Homo sapiens: one gene and its partners. The protein of the gene in region 1 purifies or fractionates together with the protein of each later gene. This does not show direct contact. Each region holds a gene or a part of one and is shown in the gene's direction. Other genes may lie near its edges. The genes, in order: SIGLECL1, TNPO3, SLC29A1, IPO7, PEX19, EIF2B2 and EIF2B1.

Region 1 (4,813 bases):
CTCAGAGGAAGCCCCTTTCTAACTGCACCTTGAAGGGAAAGCAAGAGCCAGCAAGCAGAGAAGCGAGGAAAAGCAGTTTAGGTACTGATAATATCAATTACAAAGCAAGGAGGTAGAAGAGGGGCTGGCAGATGTTTAGGTAATAGCAGTCAGTCTGCTACAGCTAGGGTAAAGGGAACAAAGTCAGGTCCCCTCTCGGGAAGTCTATCTGGGGCCTGCTCTGCAAGCTGTAAGGGCCATGGAGTAAGGCCCTGGAGGGTGAACATCATCCTTCAGTCTGTCACATTAAAAAAAAAAAATCTGCACATAAATAAGGCAAGATTTTATCCAAAACAATTATTCCAATAAAGGGAGAAGAATCTTTGCAGCAGTGGAAGGGGAACTGCTGCAACAGGGAGGTGGAGACTGTTGTAATAGGGAGTGGAGGTCTCCCATGTACCATAAAACAAAACCAAAAAGTGAGCTTCTATTCTAGTGGCACAGTCAAACCATAAACAAAAATACCATTAGCAAATGATATTTAGCACAAAGTGTTTTTGTTACAGGAAAGGGGTTCTGATCCAGACCCCAAGAGAGGATTCTTGTATCTCTTGCAAGAAAGAATTCAGGGCTATTCCATAGAGTAACGTGGAAGCAAGTTTATTAAGAAAGTAAAAGAATAAAAGAATGATTACTTCATAGAGCAGCCCCGAGGGCTGCTGGTTGCCCATTTTTATGGTTATTTCTTGATGACATGCTAAAGAAAGGGTGAATTATTCATGCCTCCCCTTTTTAGACCATATAGTGTAACTTCCTGACGTTGCCATGGCATTTGTGAACCGTCATGGTGCTGGTAGGAGTGTAGCAGTGAGGATTACCAGAGGTCACTCTCATTGTCATCTTGGTTTTGGTGGGATTTGGCTGGCTTCTTTTTTTTTTTTTTCCTTTTGAGTCAGAGTCTCACTCTGTTGCCCAGGCTGGAGTGCAGTGGTGCAATCTCGGCTCACTGCAACTTCCACCTCGCGGATTCAAGCGATTCTCCTGCCTCAACCTCCCAAGTAGCTGGGGTTACAGGTGCCTGCCACCACGCCCAGCTAATTTTTGTATTTTTAGTAGACAGGGTTTCGCCATGTTGGCAGGCTGGTCTCAAACTCCTGACCTCAGGTAATCCGCCCGCCTCAGCCTCCCAAAGTGCTGGGATTACAGGCGTGAGTCACCGAGCCCAGCCTTGGCTGGTTTCTTTACTGCAACCTGTTTTATCAGCAAGGTCTTTATGACCTGTATCTTGTGCTGACCGCCTATATCATCCTGTAACTTAGAATGCCTTAGCCCTCTGGGAATGCAGCCCAGCAGGTCTCAGCCTCATTTTACCCAGCTCCTATTCAAGACGGAGTTGCTCTGGCTCAAATGCCTCTGTCATTTTGAAAGTGTAATGGGTAAGAAAGTGCGTGACGGATAAAGTGTGAGAAAAAATAAACAGGGTTAAACAAGAGGAACGGAGTCCTCAGGGTTGGAGAGGAGTGTGGTTTCATCAGCACGGGCTGGAAAGGCCTTGCTGGGAAGAAAATTGGCCCACAAACTACCCTGGCACCGCCCCCAGCTGCGGATTGGCTCAAGCCCTCAAGATCCAATTGGGCACAAAGGTTGGAGGAGGGAGTTGCAGTTGCAGTTCCTGATTGACTCTGGCAGCCGTGCATCAGCTCCCAGGGGCACACGCCTGTGGGCACAATGCTTCTGCTTCATTGATTGGCTGTAGAAAAAGCTCATGCAGCCTCTGATTGGCTATAAAATAAGCCCATGCAGCCTCTGATTGGCTGCAACATAAGCCCATGCAGCCTCTCATTGGTTGTAAAATAAGCACATGCAGCCTCTGATTGGCTGTGTAAAGTAAGCCCATGCAGCCGCTGATTGGCTGCGGGTGGATGCACTCACCTAAGGATGCGAGCTAGCAGGTCTTGCAGCGGCTATCACGCCCCTCACGCCGCTATCTCTGTGCAGCCGACTGAGGATCCCTAGTCGCATAAGGCTGTGCCTGGCCTGTTGGCGTCCCTGGCAGTTGTTGGGTTCTGGCGGTTGTTGGGTCCCTGGCAGTTGTTGGCGGTTGTTGGGTTCCTTCATTGAAACTGCACTAACTGGGCTTCCAGTCAGCGTCAGTCAGCGGATCCTTGGGCCGTGGGGCAGCCGCAGGTCGGTTAGGCCACCAGGGCGGCTCTCGTGCCAGTGAGGCCCCTGAGAGCCCTTTGGTCAGACAGAGGCTAAATCTGAACAGTCAGGCGGTGAGATTAAGCATAGTCAGGGAGTTCGCCAGGAGCCAGCGTTCCTCAGCCTCCACCACGTCAGTCACCTGGTCAGCCAGAGGGCAGCTGGGGCGACATCCATCTACCAAGAAGGTAAGCAAGCGGCCCGTGGGTTCACAATCAGGTCAGTGCCCTTATGAGTCAACGGTTAGTCCCTTTGAAAATCAGTTCATGAGAAAATCCACTCCCTTCAGAACCTGCCCTGTTCATTGGTTAGTTAGGCTCCCGCTAAGTCGGTCTCTTGGTAAGTTACACCCCTGCAAGGCACCCAGTCATTACTCACACAGTTATCCCATGTGTGTCTATCAGTTTCATTGTTAGTTATCCTGGCTTTCCCTAGAAAATCGTTTTCCTCACCATAAATAGGTCAGTCATTAGTAAGTCAGCCCTTCCCTTAGAAAGCCGAACACCTTTGCATCACTCACACCCTGCTAAGGAAATACACAGATGGAAGTGTGCTGAGAACAGAGAATATCCTGAGCCCTTTGGAACAAGAGACAGAAGGAAAATTGAGAGACATGATGGTGAAGGAAAATTGAGAGACATGGTGGTCAAGGAAAATAGGCTGGGCGCAGTGGCTCACGTCTGTAATCCCAGCACTTTGGGAGGCTGAGGCCGGGGATCACTTGAGGTCAGGAGTTCAAGACCAGCCTGGCCAACATGGTGAAACCCCGTCTCTTCCAAAAATACAAAAATTAGATGGGCATCGTGGCCCGTGCCTGTAGTCCCAGCTACTCGGGAGGCTGAGGCAGGAGAATCACTTGAACCCCGTAGGCAGAGGTTGCAGTGAGCCAAGATCGTGCCACTGCACTCCAGCCTGGGCAACACAGCGAGACTCTGTCTCAAAAAAAAAAAAAGAAAAGAAAAGAAAAAGAAAATATAATGGGTGCATGACGAGTCATCACATGTATGCTCTAAAACTGATGGAGAGAAGAAAGAAGAAATCAGAATTTTGTACTTAAATGGATCATTACATCTCCAGCAGTAAAACCCACTCATGTTACACATGAGGAAATAAGAAGAGGGAAAATACTTGACCACAGTTATTCAGTGCTTTACTGGCAAATCCTGGCCCAGGACCTAGACAAGGCTCATTCCGACCATCTAACATGGGCTTTTAAACAGAAGAAAGGGGAAGGAAAAAAAAATTGACAATGCAAAAAGAAAGTGGATATGTGGCGTGAATGAGAGAGGCATTTAACGACCTGGAAACTTGGGCGATATCTTTTTTATGTGAGAAGGAAAAAGGGCAATCAGTCTGGAGGCTAAGGGTTGGGAGCACAGACCACTCAGAGAGGTCTGTTAAAACATGCCGAAATATGGAATAGGAAAGGACAGGGCTGGTTCCAGAACTCTGGGAAGGGATTAGGGGTGGTCAAGAGTGGTCCCAGGCTGAGTGTGTTGGTTCACGGCTGCAATCCCAGCACTTTGGGAGGCTGAGGTGAGAAGACTGCTTGAGCCCAGGAGTTCGAGACCAGCCTGGGTAACATAGTGAGACTCTGTCTCTACAAAAAAAATTTTTTCATTAGCTGGACCTGGTGGCTTGTGCTTATAGTCCCAGCTACTCTGGAGGCTGAGGTGGGAGGATCACTTGAGCCTGGAAAGTCGAGGCTGCAGTGAGCCATGTTCATGCCACTGCACTCCAGACCCTGTGTTAAAAAAAAACAAAAAAAAAGTGGTTCCAAGTTAAATGCTGATAGGAGCTAAGCAGGGAACCTAATACATAGTAACTAACATTTTTTGATTGCTTACCAAATGTGAGGTTCTGTTCTACTGACTCATTTAATCTTAACAACAACTCTAAGATGGGTGCTATTATTATCCATGTTTTTAAAATGAGCAAGTAGGCCTAGAGAGAGGTGAAGCTACTTGCACACTATAAAACAGCTAACCTTCATATCTAGGCAGTTTGACTTGAATTTAAAATTTAAAAAAAAGAGAGAGAGAGAAGCTGGTTGTTTGAATTTTTTGTGAAGTGCTCTGATTATTAAATGTTATCCCATTTTAAAAGTTAGTTTTAAAAAGTAAGCATTTGTAGGCCAAACAAAATTCATTTATGATTGTTTTTAGTCTCTGAAGCAGGCTGACAGTGAGGGAAGTGACTTACCCAGAATCACCCAGGAAGTAGCGACAAAGATTAGGTCTTCTGACTTCTGGTCCACTTCCAGGAAAAATCTAAGTATACTGTGTGTCACATCAGGGCTAGCTGATTTATTCTTATATTTTATTCATGAGGAAGTGAATTTGGAGAGGAGAATGAACTTCACCATGCTTATACAGCAGTTTTTAAGGCAAAATAGAATCATGAAAAAGACACCACAGTTGTAGTCAAAGGTTGAGTCTGAAATCTATGAACGTAACGGCTGCATGTCTTGGGGCCAGTCATAGTACTTTTGTGGATCTCTGCCTTCCTTTTGGAAGTGTTGATAATGAGATGTACCTCACAGAGTTGTTGAGACTAAGATAAAAGATAAAATTTCTACGTCTCTAGAGTTGTAAATGGCAACCATAGTTTCTCATTAGATGTTAACCAAAAA
Region 2 (4,095 bases), on another chromosome or scaffold:
TTTGATTGTCAGATGAGTGATAAAAGTCATGATTGGTATGAGATCAGACGAGGGAAAGCTCTAGACCAAAAAGAGTTGGAATAACTTTATGGAAGGGGAGGGATTTAAATGAAGCCATGAATTAGAGGTAGAATTTTGATGGATTAGAGAGGCAGATAGTCATACTGCCTCTAAGCCAAGATCAGAGCAAGTCAGAATAGTACTAAGTTTGTTAGTAGACAACTAAGCAGTGGGAGTAGTAAAGTGCTTCACAGGAATTTCGAAGGTAGGTTTGATTAGATGTGGAGTAGAATTGTAGACAGGGGAGAGCAGTGAAGAAGTAAGTATTCTGCATTCTATTTAGGCTATTCATTTAAGAAGTTTGGCAGTAAAAGAGAGAAGAAAATAACTAGAAGGGAAAGGCAATTTAAAAAATATTTTTCTCAAGGTATTAGAAATACATGTGTATTTAAAGACCACAAGAAGGGCCAGGCGCAGTGGCTCACGCCTGTAATCCCAGCACTTTGGGAGGCCAAGGCGTGCAGATCACTTGAGGTCAGGAGTTCAAGACCAGCCTGGCCAACATGGTGAAACCCTGTCTCTACTAAAAATACAAAAATTAGCCAAGTGTGGTAGTGTATGCCTGTAATCCCAGTTTCTAGGGAGGCTGAGGCAGGAGAATTGCTTGAACCCAGGGGATGGAGGTTTCAGTTAGCTAAGATCAGGCCACTGCACTCCAGCCTGGGTGACAGAGCAAGACGCTGTCTCAGAAAAAAAAAAATTAAAGACCGCAAGAAGAAAAAAAGGGTTTTTTTTTTTTCGATAGAAAAAATTAGATCTCTGATAGACGTCTTCAATTCTAATTTCAGTTGGTTTTGTTTTGTTTTGTTTTGTTGTGACTTGGGGTTCCGGCTGTGTTACCCAGACAGACTGTAGTGGCCATTCACAGGCGAGATCCCACTACAGATCAGAATGGAATTTTGACCCACTCTGTTTCTGACTTGGGCTGTTCACCCCTCCCTCCTTAGGCAACCCAGGAGTGGTTCCTCACTCCTGGGAGGTCACCACATTGATGCTGAACTTAGTACAGGCACCCAATTGGTATAGCATGCTCTAGCCCAGAACACTGGGTTCAAGCTGTTCCCCTACCTGCGCCTTTGGAGTGGCTGGGACTATGGTGTGTGCTGCCATGCCAGGCTGACTTAGTTTTTAAAAAAGGAAATAGGAACACAAGTTATTTTTCACATTAAAAAAAAATTAATACCATCACATAGAAGATGAAGAGAAAAAAATTTTAAAAATTGCTAACTTTAATTCTTAACCATGTTTTCTGCCTTCAAATCATGAAAAATCTAAGCATTAATCTCTGTTGAAACCCATGTTCATTCCTTGGATACTAATAAACTCCTTCATTTTCTTTCTAAAGACAAAAAACTTCTGGACTTTGTGAATCCAGCTGTCATTTTACACACACCTGCATACACACACACACAGCCACGCGTGCACACACACACACACTTTCCTATTAAAGAGAAATTACTAAAGGGGAAAGAGTGCTTGGTCTTTGGGAAGTTGAGACTAGAATTTATCTGATGTTCCTGCTTTCCTACATACAGCATGAAGAAGACTTTGAATTACGGAAAGAACTGATTGGACAGGTGATGAACCAGCTTGGACAGCAGCTTGTCAGCCAGCTGCTGCACACCTGCTGCTTTTGCCTCCCCCCCTATACCCTACCAGATGTGGCTGAAGTGCTCTGGGAGATCATGCAGGTTGACAGACCGGTAAGATTGTTTTCATGAGGAATTTATCTCATAGTCCCTAAATGTAATAGGCTTTGGTTCCTTAAGGCCAACCCTAATTTTGAAACTAGCCCTGTTTTCTGTCCATGGAACCAAATTTAGGCATATTGCCAAATTAGATTGGTAGATGAAGAGGCCCGTAAAGATCAGTAATTTATTATTGAGTTCTTTAAAGCATGTTTCTATGTCACTGTCATAGGGGGTATATTACCAGAAGTAAGTATCAAGCATTGAATTCAGTTGTGTGGCTGTCCAATGTGAAATTTGTTCACTTGTGAGAGATGCCCAAATGTCAGTTATATTAGTTACGTATTACTCAAGAAGTATTTAATCCTTTCAGACTTATTCTATAGCACTGTATTATTTCTTGGTGATACATCTAGCCAGAACATTTGGAAGCACATAATTGTCAAAGTAACCCACAATGTACAGTTGGATATATTTCCCCTTTGGATTTCTTTGAACCAGATCCTTTATCACCCACCTAAGGATGGAGTTGTTTTTTTAAAGCTATCTAATAATGCCCAAGTAATTTCAGTACTGGGCCACATGACCATAACTCAGGTTATGTGTACTGTGTGAAAGTTGAGTAGAATGGTAAAGTATAATATAACCTGAAATCATTTTTAAAATGGAATTTATAATTTTTAATATTACTGTAAAAGCAGTTCAGGAAAGTACTCATTGGGACCTAGTTAAAGTGAGCTGTCTTACAGAACCACAGAATATAAAATTGATAATAATAATATATAACAGATAGTACCTATTCCTCTCTGGTTCAATACACATGTTCCATTTCAACCTGATAGAGTAGCATATTTGTTTTTCTAAAGAAAAGTACTTTTTGAGCCTCCAGGAATCAGCAAATTTAATTCAAAAGTCCTTGACCTGAGGGAAAAAGTCTTCATACTCTGCTTAAACTTTTTTACAAATACATTTGGTTCCCAAGTAACAGAAAACTTATGTAAATCTAACTTTATGAAAACATTCTTGATTGTAAGCATATTGTTAAGTGCGAACAACAACAACAAAAAATGAGAACAAGAAGTTTGGACAGGAATAGAAACCAGGTAGCCATGTACTCTAAGGAGTGTACTGTATATCAGCCAGACACAATGGCTCATGCCTGTCTTCCCAATACTTTGGGAGACCAAGGCAGGAGGATCACTTGACGCCAGGAGCTTGAGACTACCAGCCTGGGCAACATAGACCCCATCCCTACAAAAAAAAAAAAAATTTTTTTTCTTTTTAATTAGCTGGGTGTGGTGGCATACATCTATAGTCCCAGCTACTCAGGAGGGTGAGGTAGGAGGATTGCTTAAGCCCAGGAGTTCCAGCCTGCAGTGAGCTATGATCATGCCACTGCACTCCAGTCTGAGCTGCATAGCAAGACCCTGTCTCAAAAAAGAAAAAGTTTGCTATATAACAACTATTATGTATTTTTAAGAATTAAGGAGCTGTTATGTATCCATAATTAAGAAATGCTTAGTACTTCATGAGCATTTATAATACTTTTGCTCTGGCCTATTATGGCCATAAATGAATATGATGGGAAAATATATAATGTAAAAAAAATTAGGTATAAAAGAGTAATTTTACAGCCCAAAACTATGACTGAAGTATACATTCCACTTAAGAAAGGGATGAAGAAATATTAGTGCTGACCCAAAGGACAACAATTAAACTGAAAATAAGAACCCAGAGGAAGTCTGTAGAATTTTTATTTTAGAAAGGAAGGAAGTAAAGGGAGTAGACAATTTTTGTGCATAGAAAAGGCATAAAGAGAATTCTTAGATATACTTATATAAAAAATATATAAGTAAATTAAACAGCAACAAGAGCAAGGTTTTTTAACACAAAGAACAGGCAGATATCACAAAGGAACTGAATGGATAGGACTTATTCTGAGAGAGATGGCCTTAAAATCCTTAAGATTCTGGACTCATATGTCTCATATGTATACTTTCTGACATGGTGGCTTAGTATACTTTTTGCCCCTGCTCTTTCAGGTATCTGAACCTTTACTCTGGATCACTTTTGATCTTTAAGCTCAAGAGTTTTTGGAAATCTGTTTAATTTTAAAAATATACTGGTCAAGTGCTTACACCTGTAGTTCCAGCACTTTGGGAGGATCTCTTGAGCCCAGGAGTTTGAGACCAGTCTGGGCAACATAGAAAGACTCCTCATCTCTTAAAAAAAAAAATTGTTTTTAATTAGCCAGGCATGTTGATGGACTTCTGTAGTCTGAGCTACCTGGGAAGCTGAGGTGGGAGGATCACTTGAGGCTGGAAGGTCAAAGCTGCAGTGCACTGCA
Region 3 (4,095 bases), on another chromosome or scaffold:
GAGCGGAACTCTCTCAGTGCCATCTTCAACAATGTCATGACCCTATGTGCCATGCTGCCCCTGCTGTTATTCACCTACCTCAACTCCTTCCTGCATCAGAGGTGAGTGCCCACCCCCTCCCCAGCCCCCAGCCTGACCCTCACTGTGTCCTGCACCCCCTTGGCTGAGCCCCAGCTTTGCCCACTTGTCTCTGCCACCCTTGGCCTCTCCCGGCAGGATCCCCCAGTCCGTACGGATCCTGGGCAGCCTGGTGGCCATCCTGCTGGTGTTTCTGATCACTGCCATCCTGGTGAAGGTGCAGCTGGATGCTCTGCCCTTCTTTGTCATCACCATGATCAAGATCGTGCTCATTAATTGTAAGCTGGGCCAGGAGGGGGCCTATGGGAGGAGGCATGCCCAACTACCCCCACTCTTTTTTCAGACCCAGCGTTAGCCAGAGAGAAGCCCAGCCTCCGCCTGGAGGGAGTGGATGCTGTGAGCAGCTGGGATTCAGAGGCCTGAGTGGGCCTGGACCAGGGCTGGGAGGGGGCAGAGAGAAGGGCAGCTCAGCCTCAAGGCTCACCAAGAGTAAAGTAGGAATGACAGGGATCTGTCTTCTTGGGCACCCCCAACCACCAGCCCTAGCTCCCCTGCTCATGCCCGCCCTGTTTCCCCAGCATTTGGTGCCATCCTGCAGGGCAGCCTGTTTGGTCTGGCTGGCCTTCTGCCTGCCAGCTACACGGCCCCCATCATGAGTGGCCAGGGCCTAGCAGGCTTCTTTGCCTCCGTGGCCATGATCTGCGCTATTGCCAGTAAGTCCGGCTATCTACCTGCCCAGTGCCCTGGTGTGGTGGGGAGAGGGGATGGGGCCTGTCTCTGATCACTGACACCACCCCAGGTGGCTCGGAGCTATCAGAAAGTGCCTTCGGCTACTTTATCACAGCCTGTGCTGTTATCATTTTGACCATCATCTGTTACCTGGGCCTGCCCCGCCTGGTGAGTAAATGGAGGGAGCTGGGGTTTGGGGTATAGGGGTCTGGGGTTCCAGACCACGGGTGTTCTGAGGACAAAACCTGAAGGAGGCCGGGATTCTGGAGATTCTGCCTCTAAATCCACCTCCCCCGTCTCCCTTACTTGATAGGAATTCTACCGCTACTACCAGCAGCTCAAGCTTGAAGGACCCGGGGAGCAGGAGACCAAGTTGGACCTCATTAGCAAAGGTCCGAAGAGCCTGAGGAAGCTGGGGTGGAGGATGGTATACCAGGCGGGGGATAGCATGAGCAAAGAGAACAAAGATGAGTGCCCTGTGTTAGCTAGCAGCCCTGAGCCAGAGGAGGACTGAAGGACTACAGCAGGGAGAGGGGGACAATAGGAAATAAGGGCCGGCAATGATAAAATGGGGGCAGATCCTGGATGACCTTGAATGCCTGAGGTGTTTGGACTAAAGGCAGTGGGAAGCAATTTCAGATTCTTGAGTGAGGAGTAACATGACCTGAGGCTCCTGGGAGAGGCCAGGCCCCCGGGTCTTGAGTTGTAGGGATTTGGAGGCGAGGTCTGGGTTAGGGTTAGAGTACGGCTGGGACTGGTTAAGGAGGCGTCTACTTTCAAGTAATCCCAGCCGTTTTGGGGAATGTTTATGTTGTCTTCTGTTGCTCTGTCTTCCCCACAACTTGGAGATTTCTTCCATCCCGCAGGAGAGGAGCCAAGAGCAGGCAAAGAGGAATCTGGAGTTTCAGTCTCCAACTCTCAGCCCACCAATGAAAGCCACTCTATCAAAGCCATCCTGAAAAATGTACGTAGGGGAGGTTATCCTATCTTCTACCCCTTGTCCTCTTTCTCTCCTCCTTTTGCTCCCTCCCCCTGCCACCCATCTCCTCCCTTTCTGACCTGAGAGTGGTCACTCCTGGATTCTTTTGTGTGTGCGTGCGTGCCCATGCGTGCGTGCCGGGGGTGGGGATTCGTGGTTCCTTTTTTTTGAGACAGAGTTTCACACTTGTTGCCCAGGCTGGAGTGCAATGGTGCAATCTCCACTCGCTGCAACCTCCATCTCCTGGGTTCAAGTGATTCTCCTGCCTCAGCCTCCCAAGTAGCTGAGATTACAGGCATATGCCACCATGCCCGGCTAATTTTTTGTATTTAGTAGAGATGGGGTTTCACCAGGTCAAGCTGGTCTCAAACTCCTGACCTCAGGTGATCCACCCACCTCGGCCTCCCAAAGTGCTGAGATTACAGGCGTGAGCCACCACGCCTGGCCTGGATTCGTGGTTCTTTAATGCACAGCCACCATGAAGACACAGGCATTTGGGTGACTCTACCCCTTCTATCTAGATCTCAGTCCTGGCTTTCTCTGTCTGCTTCATCTTCACTATCACCATTGGGATGTTTCCAGCCGTGACTGTTGAGGTCAAGTCCAGCATCGCAGGCAGCAGCACCTGGGGTGAGGATGCCACAGGTTTCCAGGATGGGAACAGACAGGATCTTGAGTTGGGCTGGAAGTGGGGAAGGGAGGGAGCCTGGGTCACCTTCTCCCCGTTTCCTGGGTCCATTTGCCCTTCCCTGGGCTGGAAGCATCTTCTCCATTTTACTGTTGGGGAAGCTGAGGCCCAGTGAAGGTTAGGCTTGCTATACCTGCCTCTGTGAGCCTGATAACCACCCGTTCATCTCCTCTTCCAGAACGTTACTTCATTCCTGTGTCCTGTTTCTTGACTTTCAATATCTTTGACTGGTTGGGCCGGAGCCTCACAGCTGTATTCATGTGGGTAAGTGGAGGAAGAGGGCCCCAGGCCCCTGTGGGAAGTAAGAGTCCAGCCTGGACCCAGAGAGGGAACCCAAGAAAGTATGGTAGTAAGGGGACCATTTGTTTTAAAGTCGAGGCATAATTTATGTATAGTTAAGTACAAGTCTTAAGTGTACAACTTAATGAATATATGTATATACACATACCTGCCCAGATCGAGATGTAGAATATTTCCAGCACTCCAGAAGGCTCCACCATGCCCCTTTCAAGAGTAACCCCCTAAGGAGAACCAGGCTTTGAGGTTTCAGTTCAGATCCTGAGGGGCCCCAGATGGATCCTTGGGGGCCTGGCTGTGCCCTGGGGTGGCGGCCTGGGCTGAGGCCCTGCCTGGTGCCCACAGCCTGGGAAGGACAGCCGCTGGCTGCCAAGCCTGGTGCTGGCCCGGCTGGTGTTTGTGCCACTGCTGCTGCTGTGCAACATTAAGCCCCGCCGCTACCTGACTGTGGTCTTCGAGCACGATGCCTGGTTCATCTTCTTCATGGCTGCCTTTGCCTTCTCCAACGGCTACCTCGCCAGCCTCTGCATGTGCTTCGGGCCCAAGTGAGTAGGGCTGGCAGGGAACTTGGTGGCATCAGACAGGATCTAGAGTTCCAGTGGGGGACACTCAGTAGAGGGAGGGCAAAAGGAGAGTCCCTGCTCCCAGAGCTGAGAGGAGAGATGGCTCAGGAGGGGCTCCCAGGCTGAGGGGATAGTGACTGTAGTGGAGGGGGGCGCCAAGCTTACTTGGGTGGAGGTGGAGACAGGTTTGCAGGAAGGAGTGAAAGACAACCCCACCATACACGTTCCCTCAAGGAGGAGAAGCCAGGTTGGGGTTAGGCAGCCAGGATGGGTTGATCAACAGAATGAGGTTCGACAGTCAAGTTGCTCCACCCCACCCCTCCTTCCACCCAGAGGCTCTGGGCTGGGGTACAGCCATTCTGAGGTAGCCTTGCCCTTCCTTCCCCGCTTAGGAAAGTGAAGCCAGCTGAGGCAGAGACCGCAGGAGCCATCATGGCCTTCTTCCTGTGTCTGGGTCTGGCACTGGGGGCTGTTTTCTCCTTCCTGTTCCGGGCAATTGTGTGACAAAGGATGGACAGAAGGACTGCCTGCCTCCCTCCCTGTCTGCCTCCTGCCCCTTCCTTCTGCCAGGGGTGATCCTGAGTGGTCTGGCGGTTTTTTCTTCTAACTGACTTCTGCTTTCCACGGCGTGTGCTGGGCCCGGATCTCCAGGCCCTGGGGAGGGAGCCTCTGGACGGACAGTGGGGACATTGTGGGTTTGGGGCTCAGAGTCGAGGGACGGGGTGTAGCCTCGGCATTTGCTTGAGTTTCTCCACTCTTGG
Region 4 (4,095 bases), on another chromosome or scaffold:
AGACTCTGTCTCCAAAAAAAAAAAAAAAAATCAGCTGGGCATGGTGGTGGGCACCTGTAATCCCAGCTACTTAGGAGGCTGAGGCAGGAGAATCACTTGAACTTGGGAGGCGGAGGCTGCAGTGAGCCGAGGTCATGCCACTGCACTCCATGCTCCAGTCCAGGCGACAGAGACTCCGTCTCAAAAAAAAATAAAAAAATAAAAAATAACAACCTTATGGAGTGTACAACTCAGTGGTTTTTAGTTTATTCACAGTTGTATAACTATCACCCCCAGAAGGAACTCTGTATACATTAGCAGTCACTCCACATATCACCCCAAATCTCCCAACCCTAGGCTACCTATAGTCCACATTTTTTCTATGGATTTGTTTATTGTGGACATTTTATATAAATGGAATCATATAATACGTAGCTCTTTGTGGGTGACTTCTTTCATTTAGTGTAATGTTTTCAAGGATTATCTGTGTTATAGCAGGTTTCAGTACTTTTTCCTTTTTGTTGCCAAATTATATTTCATTATATTAATATACCACATTTTATTTACTCATTCATTAGTTGTTTCTACTTTCTGGCTGCTTACAAATGTTGCTGTGAACATTCATGTTTAAATTTTTATGTGGACATACGTTTTCATTTTTCATGGGTATATACCTAGGAGTATGAATTGCTTGTCATAATTTGAGACACCGCAGAACCCATTTTCCAACGTAGCTATACCATTTTATATTTCTGCCAGCAGTATATTTTGATTATAGCCATCCTAGTGAACGTGAAGCATTATGTCTTTGTGGCTTTGAAATTTTTCATGTGCTTACTATCCGTTTGTATATTTTCTTTAGAGAATATCTATTCAAATTCCTTGCCCCAAAAAAATTGCTTGCCTTTGTTTTTTTTCTTTTTATTTTTTGAGATGGAGTCTTGCTCTGTCACCCAGGCTGGAGTGCAGTGGTGAGATCTTGGCTCGCTGCAGCCACCAGTCTCCCACATTAAAGTGATTCTCCTGCCTCAGCCTCCCAAGTAGCTGAGATTTCCGCCTCCCCGCCCCCCCGCCATATGCTGGAGTGCAGTGGCGCAATCTCGACTCACTGCAACCTCTACCTTCCGGGTTCAAGTGATTCTCATGCCTCAGGTGCCTGCCCCCAGCCTAATTTTTGTATTTTTAGTAGAGATGGGGTTTTGCCATGTTGGCCAGGCTGGTCTCAAACTCCTGGCTTCAGGTGATCCGCCTGCCTCAGCCTCCCAAAGTGCCAGGATTACAGGCGTGAGCCACTGTGCCTGGCCCTTGCCCATTTTTAATTGGGTTATTTGTCTTTTTATAATTGAGTTGTTAGAAATCTTTACATTCTAAAGCCAGGCACTAAGTACTCACAGAATATTTAGTCATTGTGTCTTTTATCTTTTCGTTTTTTGGAAATGGAGCCTCGTTCTGTTATACAGGTTGGAGTGCAGTGGCGTGATCTCTGCTTACTACAACCTCCACCTCCTGAGTTCAAGCGATTCTCCTGCCTCAGCCTCCCGAGTAGCTGGGACTGCAGACACCTGCCACCACACCAGCTAATTTTTGTATTTTCAGTAGAGATGGGGTTTCACCATGTTGGCCTGGCTGGTCTCGAACTCCTGACCTCAGGTGATCCACCCGCCTCGGCTTCCCAAAATGCTGGGATTACAGGCGTGAATCACTGCACCCGGCCGTCTTTCATCTTTTCTATACCTGTTCACCCATCCTTCTCTTTGTTTATAAAGTATGTATTAAAGACATTCTAATCATTTGTGGCATAGAAGGCTGAGAATTAGTGAGTTCTCTTGGCAAATTCAAGTTTATCTATTCTTACCTTTCACTCAGCTTCACTTAGTGGTAATACCTTACATAGGTAGGCAAAGTTATCAAAAACATGAAGTTGATTTTGGTATGCTACTATCAACTAATCCATGGACCTTTTTAAAGTTTCACAAGATTTCCCACTATGTCCTTTTTTCTGTTCCATGACCCAGTCTAGGGTCTCACATTGCATTAAGTTGTCATGTCTGATTATGTAAGTGTTGATATATAAGTGTCTTATGTTTTTAATGTTGATTTAATGTGCAGTTTAAGGAACTCTTCTAAAAAGCTTCTTTCCACTTAGAAAATACTCACTTTGAATACTGAGAGTGCCTTTTTAGAGAATCACTTGAATCTGGGAGGTGGACATTGCAGTGAGCCGAAATTGTGCCACTGCACTCCAGCCTGGGCAACACAGCAAGACTCCGTCTCAAAAAAAAAGAAAAAAAAAAGAGTGTGCCTTTTTAGATAGCCAGTTTATTCGTTTGAAAGCAGGATTTTTCTCAGGTTATGTTATTTTCAGCCAGAAACTTTATCAGACAAGTTTTTTCCTTATAAAAGTTTCATAGTAACAGATAAAATTAACCAAACTTACATCATTCGAACACTATTGCTGGTAAGATTTGGCATAATGGCTTTCTAATCAAGGAATATAAAAACGTGAAAATGTGTTTAGTGGTTTTTGGTGGTGAAGTTCTGGAATACGAAAATTGGTTGTGGATTCTGGGGTTCAAAGAATGAGAATAAATATATGTAACATTAATAGTCATTTTTAATAGTGTTATATCTGTTTGGAAATTGAGATGATTATATTTGGAACTGTATCAAAATAACTGTTGTTTATATTTACAGAAAAAGATCTATAAAGATCAGATGGAATACATGTTGCAGAATCATGTATTCCCTCTCTTCAGCAGTGAACTAGGCTACATGAGAGCAAGGGTATGTTTTAAAGCTGCATTATTTATATACTTTTGTCTTGTAATGAATGACTCTGTGGACTTTTATATTGAAACTTTTAAATGTTCACTTTGAAGCCTGTGTCTTATTTTAGGTTTCTGTTTAATGTAAATCTTTACATGGCTGCTGTAATGTGTGCATAGGTTTCATCTGTGTCTGGTAGCAGTGTCTGTCTGTGTTTTTCATTCAGATCTTGCTATCCACACAAACATCATGCGGCCAAAGAGTAACTTGGGATCATAGTACTGGTCTAGTGTTGTCTCTGGACACATCTACCACTGGCCAGCCTCCAAATTCCCACACACAGAACTCAGGGAATAGAGATTAGCTTGGGGGAATTTAAGGTAAGGTATCTACAGTAACTCACTGTGTTTTTACAAAAGGCTTGCTGGGTACTTCACTATTTTTGTGAAGTGAAGTTCAAAAGTGATCAGAACCTTCAAACAGCCTTAGAGCTAACAAGAAGATGTCTGATTGATGATAGAGAAATGCCTGTGAAAGTGGAAGCTGCCATTGCCCTTCAAGTATTGATCAGCAATCAAGAAAAAGGTAAAGGATTTTTGTATGTCAAGAAAAGTGAATGTTGGCCAGGTGCGGTAGGTCACACCTGTAATCTTAGCACTTCGGTAGGCTTAGGTGGGAAGAGCGCTTGAAGCCAGGTGTTCAAGACCAGCCTGGGCAACATCTCTACAAAAAAAATTTTTAAAAATTAACTGGACATAGTGGCATGTACCTGTAGTGCCAGCTACTTGGGAGTCTGAGGCAGCAGGATCACTAGAGCCCGACGGTTCGAGGCTGCAGTGTGCTACGATTGCCACTACCCTCCAGCCTGGGCAACAGATCAAAACCCTGCCTCTTATAAAATATATATATATATATTAATTGTAAAAAGCCATAATCCTAGAAACTTGGCATACTTCCTTTTTATGTGAAAGTACTTTTTTAAAAAACTCATCGATATTTGTTATATCAGGTTTTAAGAAGTTTTAGGGGTTTTACGCAAGTTTTTTACTCTTTCTCTTACAGCTAAAGAATATATCACACCATTCATCAGACCTGTAATGCAGGCTCTTCTTCACATTATAAGAGAAACAGAAAATGATGACCTTACCAATGTAATTCAGAAAATGATCTGTGAATATAGTGAAGAAGTTACTCCTATTGCAGTAGAAATGACACAACATTTGGTATGTTGTTTGAACCTACCATATTTGCAAGCATTTTAATGTAGCTCTCAGTATGTTCCAGGTTGTGTCACCAGTGGCTTGCCTTACCTTATAGCAGTCAACCTTTTTGGCACCTGGGATCGGTTTC
Region 5 (3,509 bases), on another chromosome or scaffold:
AAAGTTCCAGCTACCTGCAAGGTGAAGGAAGGCATCCCTTTTGGGGCATGCACTTTCTTTCCTTTCTCAAAATAATGTTATATGTGGCCACACTGATGTTCACCTTTACGTCCAGGGTCTTTGTGCCTTGTCTCTACTCCCTCTCTTGGATCTGGGGAGGAGGGGCAGAGACCTGGGACTCTGTATTTCTATAGTTCTCCTGGCAGAGCCTTTGAGAATGGGGAGAAACAGCCTGGGCTGGGGCTACAGGTCTGTCACTATGCTCTCTTGCCTTCAGACAGACCATTCTGAATTCTCTAAAGGGAAAGGGCTTTTGCATCTAATCACAATAGAGTTGAAAGAGAGGCCTTAGGATTCTCCTCTCTCTAGGTGCTGAGCCCTCACCTCCCTGTTCCAGGCTGAGAACTCAAATGGTTACCCTGCTTCTTCCTACAATGCTGTGTGATATGGGTGAACCCAGCCCCTGACCTTCCTCTATCCCCTGCCCATCCTCCCTTTTACCTCCTCTCTTTTTTAAACACCTGTTTATCCCAACCTTTTTGAGCTCAAGCTGTGATAAAGAAGGGCCCATCCTATTTCCCCTCATCTAGTCCATTTACGATTCTCACTGACTCCCCGTCTTCCTGGCAGACACAAATAAACCCAGTGTCAGGTCTAGGAAATTAATGGCTATTCTTCCCCAGATACATTCTGGCTTATTTGAGATACATGATTCTCTTAGAATCCTGTCCCTTGGTTCAGGAAAGTAGCTTGGAAAAGGAGTAGGGGTATAGCTTGGGTCCCTTTTCCTGCAAGGCCCCATGGGGCAGAATATAATAAATATTCTGAGTGAGGAGTGTGGTCTTTTTCTGATCTTCCTCAGCTTCCGTAAGTTGCAGAGTGAGGTATATTAGGAGACTAGTTCTACACAATATTGTAATGCTGGGTTCCATCAACACCCACCTTCCACAACTCAGTCTGCACCTCAGTTGGCAAAGGAGACTGGATGGCCATCTTTCCTCATGTTCCCTTGAGTATTTCAATGTAGAAAGCCCTTCAAGTGGTATTATATTTTAACCTTTTACATTATTGTTATTAATGTTAGTAATATATTGTTATGTTTTCTAAATTATTTTTCTTTAAGCTGACGTGGCTTTTTTTCTGTGGCTCCCAGTGGGTCTACGGACCTTGGCTGACATATGTTGGTAGGTACTCTGGTCAGCTCAGCTGGCTGTCCTGGTTCACTCAGAAGATAAGTCTCTCCAAAGCAAATTCACATGCATTATGAGTCGCTTTGAGCTTCTGACATGTCACTTGCCCCGAGGTTAAAACTTTTCACCCCTTGAAGACCTTACATGTTTTATGGTATTGGTGAGGAAGGAAATGTTCTCAAGGTCTCAGGCTATTTGGGAAATTCCAACTCCTATACCTTACCAGAGCATGGAAGAGCCCAGATCTGAATGTAAAACGTCTCTGTTCTGCCAGAGATGGAAAAAATACAGGTATACTTGTGATATAGTCATGGGGCTTCAGTGTCACTATTTTCTCCTTAAAGCTCCAGCCAAAAACTGGACAAGGATAGAGAGGAGGAGGGAAGAACAAAAGAGCCCTTCTCTATGAACCTTGTGCCTTCTGTCCTACCAGTTTTCTTTTACAGATTCTCACTTCTGCTAGCCTAGCCAGGGCTTACTCCAGGAATCTAAATAGATGCCCTAGTCCACTTTATCTTTGTTCCCAAGGCACTCATTTTTATTTTGATTTTGATTGAATGTGAGCAGGTTGACCTCAGGTCACACTTTGTTCCAAAAACTTTTGGAATTATTCCAGGACTTGTGGTGGAGTTATGGTACTCTAGGGCAGTCTTTCTCAAACTATGTATGGTAAAGGACCAGGTTTTTTGTTTTCCAGTCCTTCACTTATCAATATGCATTCCTATTGCCCATGACAGGTATGGAGTTCACACTGTGTGCTGCCGACCCGGCAAGTTTGACAGCACCCAAACTGGCCAGACTGTTCTGTAGGTTAAGTCCATTGATCATGTACTTGGATATCACAGCAACATTGAAATGCTAAAAAGTTTTTAAACACTCTCAATTTCTAATTCACCATGTCACAGACTGGTGAAAAAAAAAAAAAGGTGTTCACTGACCAGCACAAGTCTGCAGATCATCTTTGAGTAGCACTGTTTTGGGGCCCTCGGTCTCTCTGAAGACCCTAGCAGAACTGATACCTACCTGTATCTCTTGTTCTCTCCTATTTGAGTTTCACTTCCAGAGAACTTGTTCTTCAGCAAGAATGTGTCACTAGTAAGGACATCTCTAGCATTTCTCTAGCCTTCCTTTTCTGCTGCTCAAAAATAATCGTTACAAAGCTTAGGTTTAAGCTGTATATGAAATATTTATGCGACTCTCAAACTTTAAAGGAGTTGCTCCTTTGTTCCAAAATTAAATGTGTTAGATAAATTTGTGATTGTATGGGTGGCTTCATGAATTAAGAATTGAATTAATACAGACTTTTTGATAATTGGGACATTTTCCTGTGACTCTGGAAGGTCTTGTCAAAGCCCCATGAGGCAGTTATAATATGATGTTAAGATGGCTTTGGGGAGCTAGGAGAAAACATTGGCCCATATTGAATGACGTGGAGACGGCAGACCATACAAAAAAGGACCAAAAGACTTAGAGGAAATGGGTATGCAAGAATGAATGTTATATAACACTGGTAAACCCACCAGCTGACTACCCCAGAAAGACCTGGGAATTATTTTTTAATAAAGACAATGGGAAAGGCACTGATGAAGGGTTACCAGCATCTTTGAGAAATTTAGAAGTGGCTGTCTCTCTAGATCGAAGCTGATACAAGATGTAAAAGAAACTGTTTTCCTAGTAGCAGTGGGGGAATGATAGGATCCTGACATAGCAGAGGCCAGGTGGCAACACTTAACTCTCAGAAGCAAGGTGAGTAAATTTCCTTAAGGGTAGCAAGGTCAAAGTGGAGATGGCTAACGGAATGTGAGTGGTCCTAGGAGCAGGATAGATGGGCAACCAAGAAGAGTATTGTCTTATATATAAGGGAGATCAAGAATGGTTGAACAGAAGGCTGAAGTCAGAAACTTCAAAGAAAAGTCCCCATTTCTTGTCCAGTTTTTAAGCCTGAGATAGTTCTTAGACTCATAAACTATCAATGGAAAGAGACATTTATCAGTTAATCATTGAGTGGAAAAGCACTGTTCATCCTCTGTTCTCACACCACAATGAGTGACACAGAACTCTTCTGTAATCACGTGTGGAATTCCCTCCCCTCAACAAGCAAGCAATTCTGCAGTGGATAACAGCTGGATATCCTCTAATTTACTTTAATTCTGACACTGTCTACCTGGAGACAGTGTCAGATCCCACAGGTTGACCAATCAATCACTGAGACTCTCCCCCCCAACTTCTGATGTCAATTGCAATTCCTGGGTTATTTTGCCTGTGCTATAAATCAGGGTGTCTACAGCCAGCTCCTTGGGTTTGGTTAATTTGTTAGAG
Region 6 (4,068 bases), on another chromosome or scaffold:
AAGATAGCGCCACTGCACTCCAGCCTGGACGACAGAGCAAGACTCTGTCTCAAAAAAAAAAAAAAAGATGGCGAGCTGCTGGGTTCAAGGAAAGATAACTTGATTCTTTTAGGAATCAAAGCAGGGTAAATTACCTTGGGGATGACTAATGCTTGGTCTGACCTCACTTGATCCTAAGTAAATAATAGGTCTCAAAAAGGAAATATGTAAGGATGCAGGTTGTTTTAAAATAATGAGCCAGGAGCTATCTTGTCAGCAATCGTGATTATATTATACATGCATGTTGTATTTCCAGTTTTATGGCTGCTCTGGTGCTGCTGTGGAGCATTAGACATTTATTAGCTTCCCCTGGGCTTCCCTACAGCTTACCAGAGCTATGAGAGTCTGAAAAATCAGTTGTCCGAAAAATGAGTTATCTATTGGAAATTATGTGCTGGATATGCCCATATCACACAATTCCCCAGATCCAGTTACATTTGAGAGCACTTTTCACTATTTCTCACTCTTTCTCTTAGAATCAGCCTTTCCCTCCCATTGCAGGGTCATGAAATGGCTGTGAATTTGTCCAAAGCAGGTATTGAGACAACTGTCATGACTGATGCTGCCATTTTTGCCGTTATGTCAAGAGTCAACAAGGTGGGTATATCTGGAGTTATGTTGAATTCATGAAGATTATGTTTCTAAAATATTGATTTTTATCTCCTCCTGTAATATCCACGGTGAGAGAATAAAGTTTCTAGCACCTTTCAAAGTACATACTTAGGCCTTTTTAATCTGTTAACTGAATTTCTTTTCCCTTTTTTCTGCATCATTGTTCCTCTCTTGGAGTAGCCTCTAAATTTGGTTGAAGCATTGAAAAGAATGAAGTATTAAATAGAACTAAGGCAAGAGTGTCAGTTTCTAGGGATTGGCTACAGGGCTCCTGCCTTATGCTCAAAGAGCTTGGCAGTTGTGGATAGTGAATGAAAAAGATTCCTGGCTTCTCAGAAGGTATGGCATCTCAATTTCCAGAAAATATGGGACTGAGAGCAGTAGGTTTTGCAGTTTCTTGTCCCATTTTACATTCATTCTTTCCTTGGAAACCTACTTTTAAGCTAGAACTTGTATTGAGCCAGGGATCCCTTCACCTCTACCAGTCTGTGACCCCTCACGATACCAATTCTGAGGTCTAAGCATTTAGCTTTTTGTGGCCAGTGGCCCTTTTAGGGCTCCACCCCCAGGATGGCTCACATTTTTTGTCTTGTCCCAAAGGTGATCATTGGCACGAAGACCATCCTGGCCAATGGGGCCCTGAGAGCTGTGACAGGAACTCACACTCTGGCACTGGCAGCAAAACACCATTCCACCCCACTCATCGTCTGTGCACCTATGTTCAAACTTTCTCCACAGGTAAGTGTGTCTGTCTCTAGCTAGAAGCCAGCAGAAAAGAAGGAAGCCAAAGGGTAGGCTTGAACTCTGGGACTTCAACCACCTCACTCCAGGGCCTCCATTTATCTGCATTTACTCAATGGATTACACCCAGTGGAGGCTGGAAAGAACCACAGAAGTCTTGATTCAGTAAAACAGTTGAGAGTTCTCAGCTGTCAACTTTAGGAAGTCAAGATTGTAAGGACAATATGTAGTTGGGAAAGGTCCTTTGCTTACGATTGCCACCACTCCCTGTCGCCTGACCATTTCTGAAAATGCCAAGCAGGTTGAAAGTAGGATCATAGAATCAGTTTTGTTATTGTTGCAGGGCCTGTCCTTTGTAACCTGAATACAAGCAAGGACTAAGTGAAGAGCCATTTCATCAGTGATAGAAGCTATTTGCTTTGAAAACATCAACCTATTTATAGGTCTCTATTTTTTAAATTGAGGTGAAATTCACATAACATACAATTAACCATTTTAAAGTATACAATTTAGTGATATCTAGTACATTCACAGCATTGTACAACCACCACTCTCTAGTTTCAAAACTTTTTCTCCACTGTAGAAAAACACCCTGTACCCATTAAGTAATCTCTCCCTATTTGTCCTTCTCCCCATCTCCTCCAATCTGCTCCTGTCTCTATGGATTTGCCCATTTTGTATAAAAGGAATCATATAATATGTGACATGTTGTGCCTGACTTTTTTCACTTAGCATGATGTTTTCAAAGTTCATCCATGTTGTAATGTCAGAATTTCCTTTCGAGGCTGAATAATATTCCATTATATGAACATACCACAATTTATTAATCCATTCATCTGTTTATGGGCATTTGGGTTGGTTCCAGCTTTTGGCTTTTGTGAATAATGCTGCTATAAGCATCTGTGTATAAGTTTTCTGTGTGGACATATGTTTTCATCTCTAGGGTACATACCTAGGAGTGGAATTGCTGGGTCTCTAGTTTTTATAAATTTTTTCCTTTTTAGTTCCCCAATGAAGAAGACTCATTTCATAAGTTTGTGGCTCCTGAAGAAGTCCTGCCATTCACAGAAGGTACAGAAGCTGTGTGTGCATGCGTGCATGTGTTGTGTGTATTCGGGGTTTGTGTGTGCATGTGTTTTGGTCTTTTTGTTGTTTTGTTGGTCAGTAGAACTGAATGCTGTCAAGTTGTGTTTTTTATCATACTTCTTGTGGGGACTGTTTTCTTTAGAAGCTCAAAGTGCTTGAGGACCTGACCAAGTCCATGTTAATTTGTTCTGAGACAAATATATTTTAGATTTGTTGGGGCTATTGTGGGTTGGATCATTTAGCATTGTCTGGGTTTGGCTTTGCATGCTGTTTGAGATATAGACAACAACCAGTTGGGAAAATGTACCTGTTTTCCTGCTATAAGGAGTCATTTTGGTGAATTGACTCCCAAAGGAAGCAGGTTGTGAAATGTTCCTCCTTAGAAAACTCACCTGTAGCCTGGATAGTCTCATGTCTTGGGGTTCTTTTCTCTGGCTTCTTCTGAAGGCAGCAGCTCAGCTCATTACGCGTGCAGCCTCATCAGCAAGGGTGGCCTTACACACCATCTGAGAGCAACGCATAGTAGTTGGTTGGGGTCCTAGTTCCTCTTGGAAGTTGATTGACTTCATCCCTTTATTTAAATAAACATTCAATCTTCAAGAAATAGTTATTGAGCACCTACAATGTATCCAGCACTCTTCTAGGCACTGAAGATAAAACAATGAATGAAAAAGATAAGGCCCTGTTCCCACACATTCTATTGTGGAAGACAGATGAGAAAGTATCAGGTCATGGGATGCCTGAGGACAAGCAAGGCTGATGTGGTAGAAAGTGGCTAGGGGCCTGAGATTGAGGAAGGGTCTTAATGAGATGACATTTCAGCTGAGTCCTGAATGAACAGAGTCCACCATATGAAGATCATAGTTTTCTATGAGCTGGTGCAGGGGCTTAGCCAGTTAGAAAAGGATGGCCATACATGGCTAGACAGTAATGAGCAAGGGGGAGAGTGGTCCAAATTGTAATTCATGTGGTGTGTCAGGGAGGGCCCAGATCTTAAACTTCAATCCTGAGTTTGAATTTTATTCTGAGGGCTGTGCAGAGGCATGGGAGAGTTGTAAGCAGGGATTGTCATGATCTGAAGTCATCTCTTCTGGTTTGCATTTTTCCATAGCTTCCCGTCCTTGGGGAGCTAATATGCCTGCATTCTCGAGCCTGGAATCTATATGCTACTTAATTATGAGAGAGGGAGCCTCAGTTTTACCTTTAGCATGTGTGCTTGCCTTTCAGGGGACATTCTGGAGAAGGTCAGCGTGCATTGCCCTGTGTTTGACTACGTTCCCCCAGAGCTCATTACCCTCTTTATCTCCAACATTGGTGGGAATGCACCTTCCTACATCTACCGCCTGATGAGTGAACTCTACCATCCTGATGATCATGTTTTATGACCGACCACACGTGTCCTAAGCAGATTGCTTAGGCAGATACAGAATGAAGAGGAGACTTGAGTGTTGCTGCTGAAGCACATCCTTGCAATGTGGGAGTGCACAGGAGTCCACCTAAAAAAAAAATCCTTGATACTGTTGCCTGCCTTTTTAGTCACCCCGTAACAAGGGCACACATCCAGGACTGTGTCTTGCCTTTCAGATCTTA
Region 7 (4,095 bases), on another chromosome or scaffold:
TAGCCTCACCCATACCACCTTGCAGACCTCATCTGCCGCTGCTACTTAATGTCTTTCCATGCCTCAGCCTCCCAAAGTGCTGAGATTACAGGCGTGAGCCACCATGCCCAGCCACCCAGCTTTATTTCTATGTGTGCTTGTTTACTATCCGCTTCCTCTATTACAATCAAAACTCCATCACAGCAGAACCCTACCTGTCTTGTTCACTGATGTATCCCTAGCATCTAGAATAGTGCCTGGTATATAGTATGTACCTAGTAAATATTCACTGAATGAATGAATGAATTGAAGATACAGGTCGGGGCTGTGGCCCTAATGTGAACATCACATTCCTTGTTGGATCATTCCAGGGGAGACAATCCAGGGTCTGAGGGCGAATCTCACCAGTGCCATAGAAACCCTGTGTGGTGTGGACTCCTCTGTGGCAGTGTCCTCTGGCGGGGAGCTCTTCCTCCGCTTCATCAGTCTTGCCTCCCTGGAATACTCCGTAAGTGCCTGTTCTCCCTGGGGTTACCTTTCCACTTCTCTGTTTAGTGACAGACATTCTCAGCATTAACTGGATCTTCCCTGTCCCCTCAGTTTGCTCTTTTCTTCCTAGGATTACTCCAAATGTAAAAAGATCATGATTGAGCGGGGAGAACTTTTTCTCAGGAGAATATCACTGTCAAGAAACAAAATTGCAGATCTGTGCCATACTTTCATCAAAGATGGAGCGGTGAGTGGATAATCATCATGGTGGTAAGGAGGAGCAACGGTTTCGAGTCCGACTGCCTGGGGTAAAATCCGGGCTCTGCCACTCACTTGCTGTGGAGACTTGAACAAGTAACTTAACCTGTCTGTGCAGCTTTCTCATCTGTTAAATAAGGATGACAATAGTACCTACCTCCTTGGGTTGTTGTGAGGATTAAATGAGGCAAGACATGTAAGGGGCAAGGGGTGTGAGGGCTTGGTATTGTGCCTGGCACTTAGTAAGTGCTGCATGAATGTAGGTCTTGTTATTAGAGATGGTTGTCATTGTAAACAGGCAGAGAGGGACAGTGGGACAGCACGTGTGATTCTTGATTTATTTTATTTATTTATTTATTTATTTTGAGACGGAGTCTTGCTCTGTCACCCAGGCTGGAGTGCAGTGGCGCGATCTCAGCTCACTGCAAGCTCCGCCTCCTGGGTTCACACCATTCTCCTGCCTCAGCCTCCCGAGTAGCTGGGACTACAGGTGCCCACCAGCAAGCCCAGCTAATTTTTTTTATTTTTAGTAGAGACGGGGTTTCACTGTGTTAGCCAGGATGGTCTCGATCTCCTGACCTTGTGATCCACCCGCTTCGGCCTCCCAAAGTGCTGGGATTACAGGCGTGAGCCACCGCACCTGGCCCTGATTCTTGATTTAATACAGTGTTTTACTAAAGAAGTATTTTTATGATTGTATGTGTAGTAAATCTGAATTAACAGAACAGCTCTTGTCACTGGTTAACACTGAGGACTTTCTTAGTGAAGGTTAGCAATAGAGGGAAATTGAGGGAAATTTTCTTTTTAACTTCATTTTAGATGCTATTACAGAGATGTAAAGCCACGCAGTGTTTATAAGTGAGGAAAGACAGGAGGTGCAAGTTGAACCATCTTCCAGTAAAGGTGTAATGAAACTATCATAATGCCCCTCCCACCAGCATACGTCCTTTTGCCACCTAGGCCTCCCCTGATCATAAAATCATTTACTTGCATTTTGACTCTTAAATCTTGTCCTCCATTTTATTAGCCCCTTCCCAACCTTTGAAGTATGTTATTAAATAAATGGCATAATAGATGTGAGTGAAACTTGTAGAAAAGCCAGTTGCAAACGAAGCCTTTTTTGGGCAAGTGGAGGCAAGGTTGTGACTTCCTCTCGCTGGGGCCTTCTCCTTCCACAGACCTGCTGTGCCGTCAGTATTGTGCGGGTTTCGTTTGCTCTAGTGTAGTGTGGTATGTATGTACTTTACCTGCAGTCACCTACTCAGGACTGATTTAGACAAAATTTATAGCAGAGCTGCTCAGATTTGCACATGCAGAGGAGTCAGCTGGGGTCTTATTAAATGCAGATCGGGATTCAGTGGGTTTGGGCTAGGGTCCACGAACCTGCCTTCCTAACGGGTTCTCAGGTGAGACCCAGAAAGGAGCTAGAGAGCTGGTTCTGCCCCCTTGTCTTATTCTGTCTTCTGCACTCTTCCATAGAAAAGAGGTTATGGAGGCTGGGCATGGTGGCTCATGCCTGTAATCCCAGCACTTTGGAAAGCCAAGACACGCAGATTGCTTGAGTCCAGGAGTTCAAGACCAGCCCGGGCAACATGGCAAAACTTCATCTCTACTAAAAATACAAAAAGTTAGCCAGGCGTGGTGGCACACTCCTGTGGTCCCAGCTACTTGGGAGGCTCAGGTGGGAGAATCACCTGAACCCAGGAAGTTGAGGCTGCAGTGAGCTGAGATCATACCACTGCACTTCAGCCTGGGCAATTGGAGTGAGATCCTGTCTCACCAAAAAAAAAAAAAAAAAAAAAAAAAGAGGTTATGGGCCTACTGTGGTGGCTTATGTGTATAATCCTAGCCGGAGGTTCCCTTGAGGCCAGGAATTCAACACTAGCCTGAGCAACATAGGGAGAGAGGCCCTGTCTCTACAAAAAATAAAATAAATTAGCTAGTCACAGTGGCGCACATCTGTAGTCCCAGCTACTGGGGTGGCTGAGGTGGGAGGATCGTTTGAGCCCAGGATGTCGAGGCTACAGTGAGCCATGAACACTGCACTGCACTCCAGCCTAGGCATCAGAGCAAGACCTTGGCTCAAGAAAGAAAAGAAAACAGATTATGTCTAAGTGTCTACACATTGCATCCACGCCACAGATAGGTTGTGATTACCCCAAACAGTGTTTATAAATTCAAAAAAATTAGTTAGCCATCATTTCAAAATTGGATTTTTGAAACATCACCTGGTCTGGCAATCTTGGGGCCACATGACGCCAGCTGGGGCTGAGGAGTCCTGGCCCTCCTTAGCCTTTTCTTTTTGAGACAGAGTCTCACTCTCTTGCCCAGACTAGAGTGCACTGGCATGATTATGGCTCACTGCAGCCTCAACCTCCCAGGCTCAAGTGATCCTCCCACCTCGGCCTCCCAAGTAGCTGGGACTATAGGCACATGCCACTGCATCCAGCTAATTTTTTTTGTTGTTATTTTTTGTAGAGATGAGGTCTTGCCAAGTTGCCCAGACTGGTTTTGAACTCCTGGGCTCAGGCAGTCCTCTCACCTTGGCCTCCCAAAATGCTGGGATTACAGGCGTGAGCCACCACACCCAGCCTTCTGTAGCCTTTCGCTTTGCTGCTGGCCCCACCCAACCTGCTGCAGTGACTTCTGCTACCTACTTGGTTCCTGTAGGCCTGCGTGTGCAAACCATGTCTTAGAAATAGGAAAACCAACCCAAGGGAACCTCATGGAGCCTTCAGCTATCCAGGCTTTTGTATCCTTTGGGTAACACTGTGTGGGAGTTCCATTTCTGCACCTGCTACAGGATGTGAGACCTGGCAGAAACTTTTTTAGCTTGCACATGGGATGGAAACTGTACCATCAGGTCTCCTTTCTGGTTGTGGTTGATTTGTGAGAAAGTGTACAGAGATGCTTAGGGTGTCGGGAACACGTGCCGCAGTGCAGAGGGTGTGAGTGAGCAGCAAGGAGCCTGCCCCTTTGACAAAGCTTTCTCGGTCCACAGACAATATTGACTCACGCCTACTCCAGAGTGGTCCTGAGAGTCCTGGAAGCAGCCGTGGCGGCCAAGAAGCGATTTAGTGTATACGTCACAGAGTCACAGCCTGATTTGTCAGGGCAAGTACCTTTCTGTTCAGTTATGTGCCCAGCCATAATTTTACAGAGCAAACTGCGGATTACAGTCCAACAGGATCAGAACCAGAATGTGCCCCCAGCTTGCCAGCAGTCAGCACTGCCTTTCATTGTACCTTTTCCTGCCTTTGGAAGAAAAATCACTGAATTTGCAGCAGGCCGCAGTATATGATCTAGGGGTTTCACTTAAGTAGTTAACTCCGTGGAAGAGCAGAGATTGTATTGATGAAGATTTTTATC

Evidence for each region.
Region 2: the proteins of SIGLECL1 (region 1) and TNPO3 purify together in Homo sapiens (co-immunoprecipitation; 3 studies listed by BioGRID and IntAct, with this or other methods). This does not show direct contact.
Region 3: the proteins of SIGLECL1 (region 1) and SLC29A1 purify together in Homo sapiens (co-immunoprecipitation; 3 studies listed by BioGRID and IntAct, with this or other methods). This does not show direct contact.
Region 4: the proteins of SIGLECL1 (region 1) and IPO7 purify together in Homo sapiens (co-immunoprecipitation; 3 studies listed by BioGRID and IntAct, with this or other methods). This does not show direct contact.
Region 5: the proteins of SIGLECL1 (region 1) and PEX19 purify together in Homo sapiens (co-immunoprecipitation; 3 studies listed by BioGRID and IntAct, with this or other methods). This does not show direct contact.
Region 6: the proteins of SIGLECL1 (region 1) and EIF2B2 purify together in Homo sapiens (co-immunoprecipitation; 3 studies listed by BioGRID and IntAct, with this or other methods). This does not show direct contact.
Region 7: the proteins of SIGLECL1 (region 1) and EIF2B1 purify together in Homo sapiens (co-immunoprecipitation; 3 studies listed by BioGRID and IntAct, with this or other methods). This does not show direct contact.

Annotation. Positions count from the first base shown.
Region 1 is NC_000019.10:51,249,177-51,253,989, forward strand, and holds the start of SIGLECL1 (SIGLEC family-like protein 1), read left to right. Parts: upstream 1-1,903; 5' UTR 1,904-2,369; intron 2,370-4,813.
Region 2 is NC_000007.14:128,967,816-128,971,910, reverse strand, and holds part of TNPO3 (transportin-3), read left to right. Parts: intron 1-1,595; coding exon 1,596-1,763; intron 1,764-4,095. UniProt on the Homo sapiens protein: Importin, which transports target proteins into the nucleus. Specifically mediates the nuclear import of splicing factor serine/arginine (SR) proteins, such as RBM4, SFRS1 and SFRS2, by recognizing phosphorylated SR domains.
Region 3 is NC_000006.12:44,229,691-44,233,785, forward strand, and holds part of SLC29A1 (equilibrative nucleoside transporter 1), read left to right. Parts: coding exon 1-101; intron 102-216; coding exon 217-356; intron 357-656; coding exon 657-791; intron 792-877; coding exon 878-975; intron 976-1,120; coding exon 1,121-1,199; intron 1,200-1,673; coding exon 1,674-1,771; intron 1,772-2,307; coding exon 2,308-2,416; intron 2,417-2,652; coding exon 2,653-2,738; intron 2,739-3,116; coding exon 3,117-3,316; intron 3,317-3,726; coding exon 3,727-3,838; 3' UTR 3,839-4,095. UniProt on the Homo sapiens protein: Uniporter involved in the facilitative transport of nucleosides and nucleobases, and contributes to maintaining their cellular homeostasis. Functions as a Na(+)-independent transporter.
Region 4 is NC_000011.10:9,425,867-9,429,961, forward strand, and holds part of IPO7 (importin-7), read left to right. Parts: intron 1-2,673; coding exon 2,674-2,763; intron 2,764-2,899; exon of another isoform or gene 2,900-3,088; intron 3,089-3,164; coding exon 3,165-3,330; intron 3,331-3,807; coding exon 3,808-3,968; intron 3,969-4,095. UniProt on the Homo sapiens protein: Functions in nuclear protein import, either by acting as autonomous nuclear transport receptor or as an adapter-like protein in association with the importin-beta subunit KPNB1.
Region 5 is NC_000001.11:160,275,806-160,279,314, reverse strand, and holds the end of PEX19 (peroxisomal biogenesis factor 19), read left to right. Parts: 3' UTR 1-2,508; downstream 2,509-3,509. UniProt on the Homo sapiens protein: Necessary for early peroxisomal biogenesis. Acts both as a cytosolic chaperone and as an import receptor for peroxisomal membrane proteins (PMPs).
Region 6 is NC_000014.9:75,005,326-75,009,393, forward strand, and holds part of EIF2B2 (translation initiation factor eIF2B subunit beta), read left to right. Parts: intron 1-540; coding exon 541-636; intron 637-1,251; coding exon 1,252-1,389; intron 1,390-2,396; coding exon 2,397-2,463; intron 2,464-3,705; coding exon 3,706-3,863; 3' UTR 3,864-4,068. UniProt on the Homo sapiens protein: Acts as a component of the translation initiation factor 2B (eIF2B) complex, which catalyzes the exchange of GDP for GTP on eukaryotic initiation factor 2 (eIF2) gamma subunit.
Region 7 is NC_000012.12:123,626,789-123,630,883, reverse strand, and holds part of EIF2B1 (translation initiation factor eIF2B subunit alpha), read left to right. Parts: intron 1-350; coding exon 351-487; intron 488-598; coding exon 599-715; intron 716-3,727; coding exon 3,728-3,840; intron 3,841-4,095.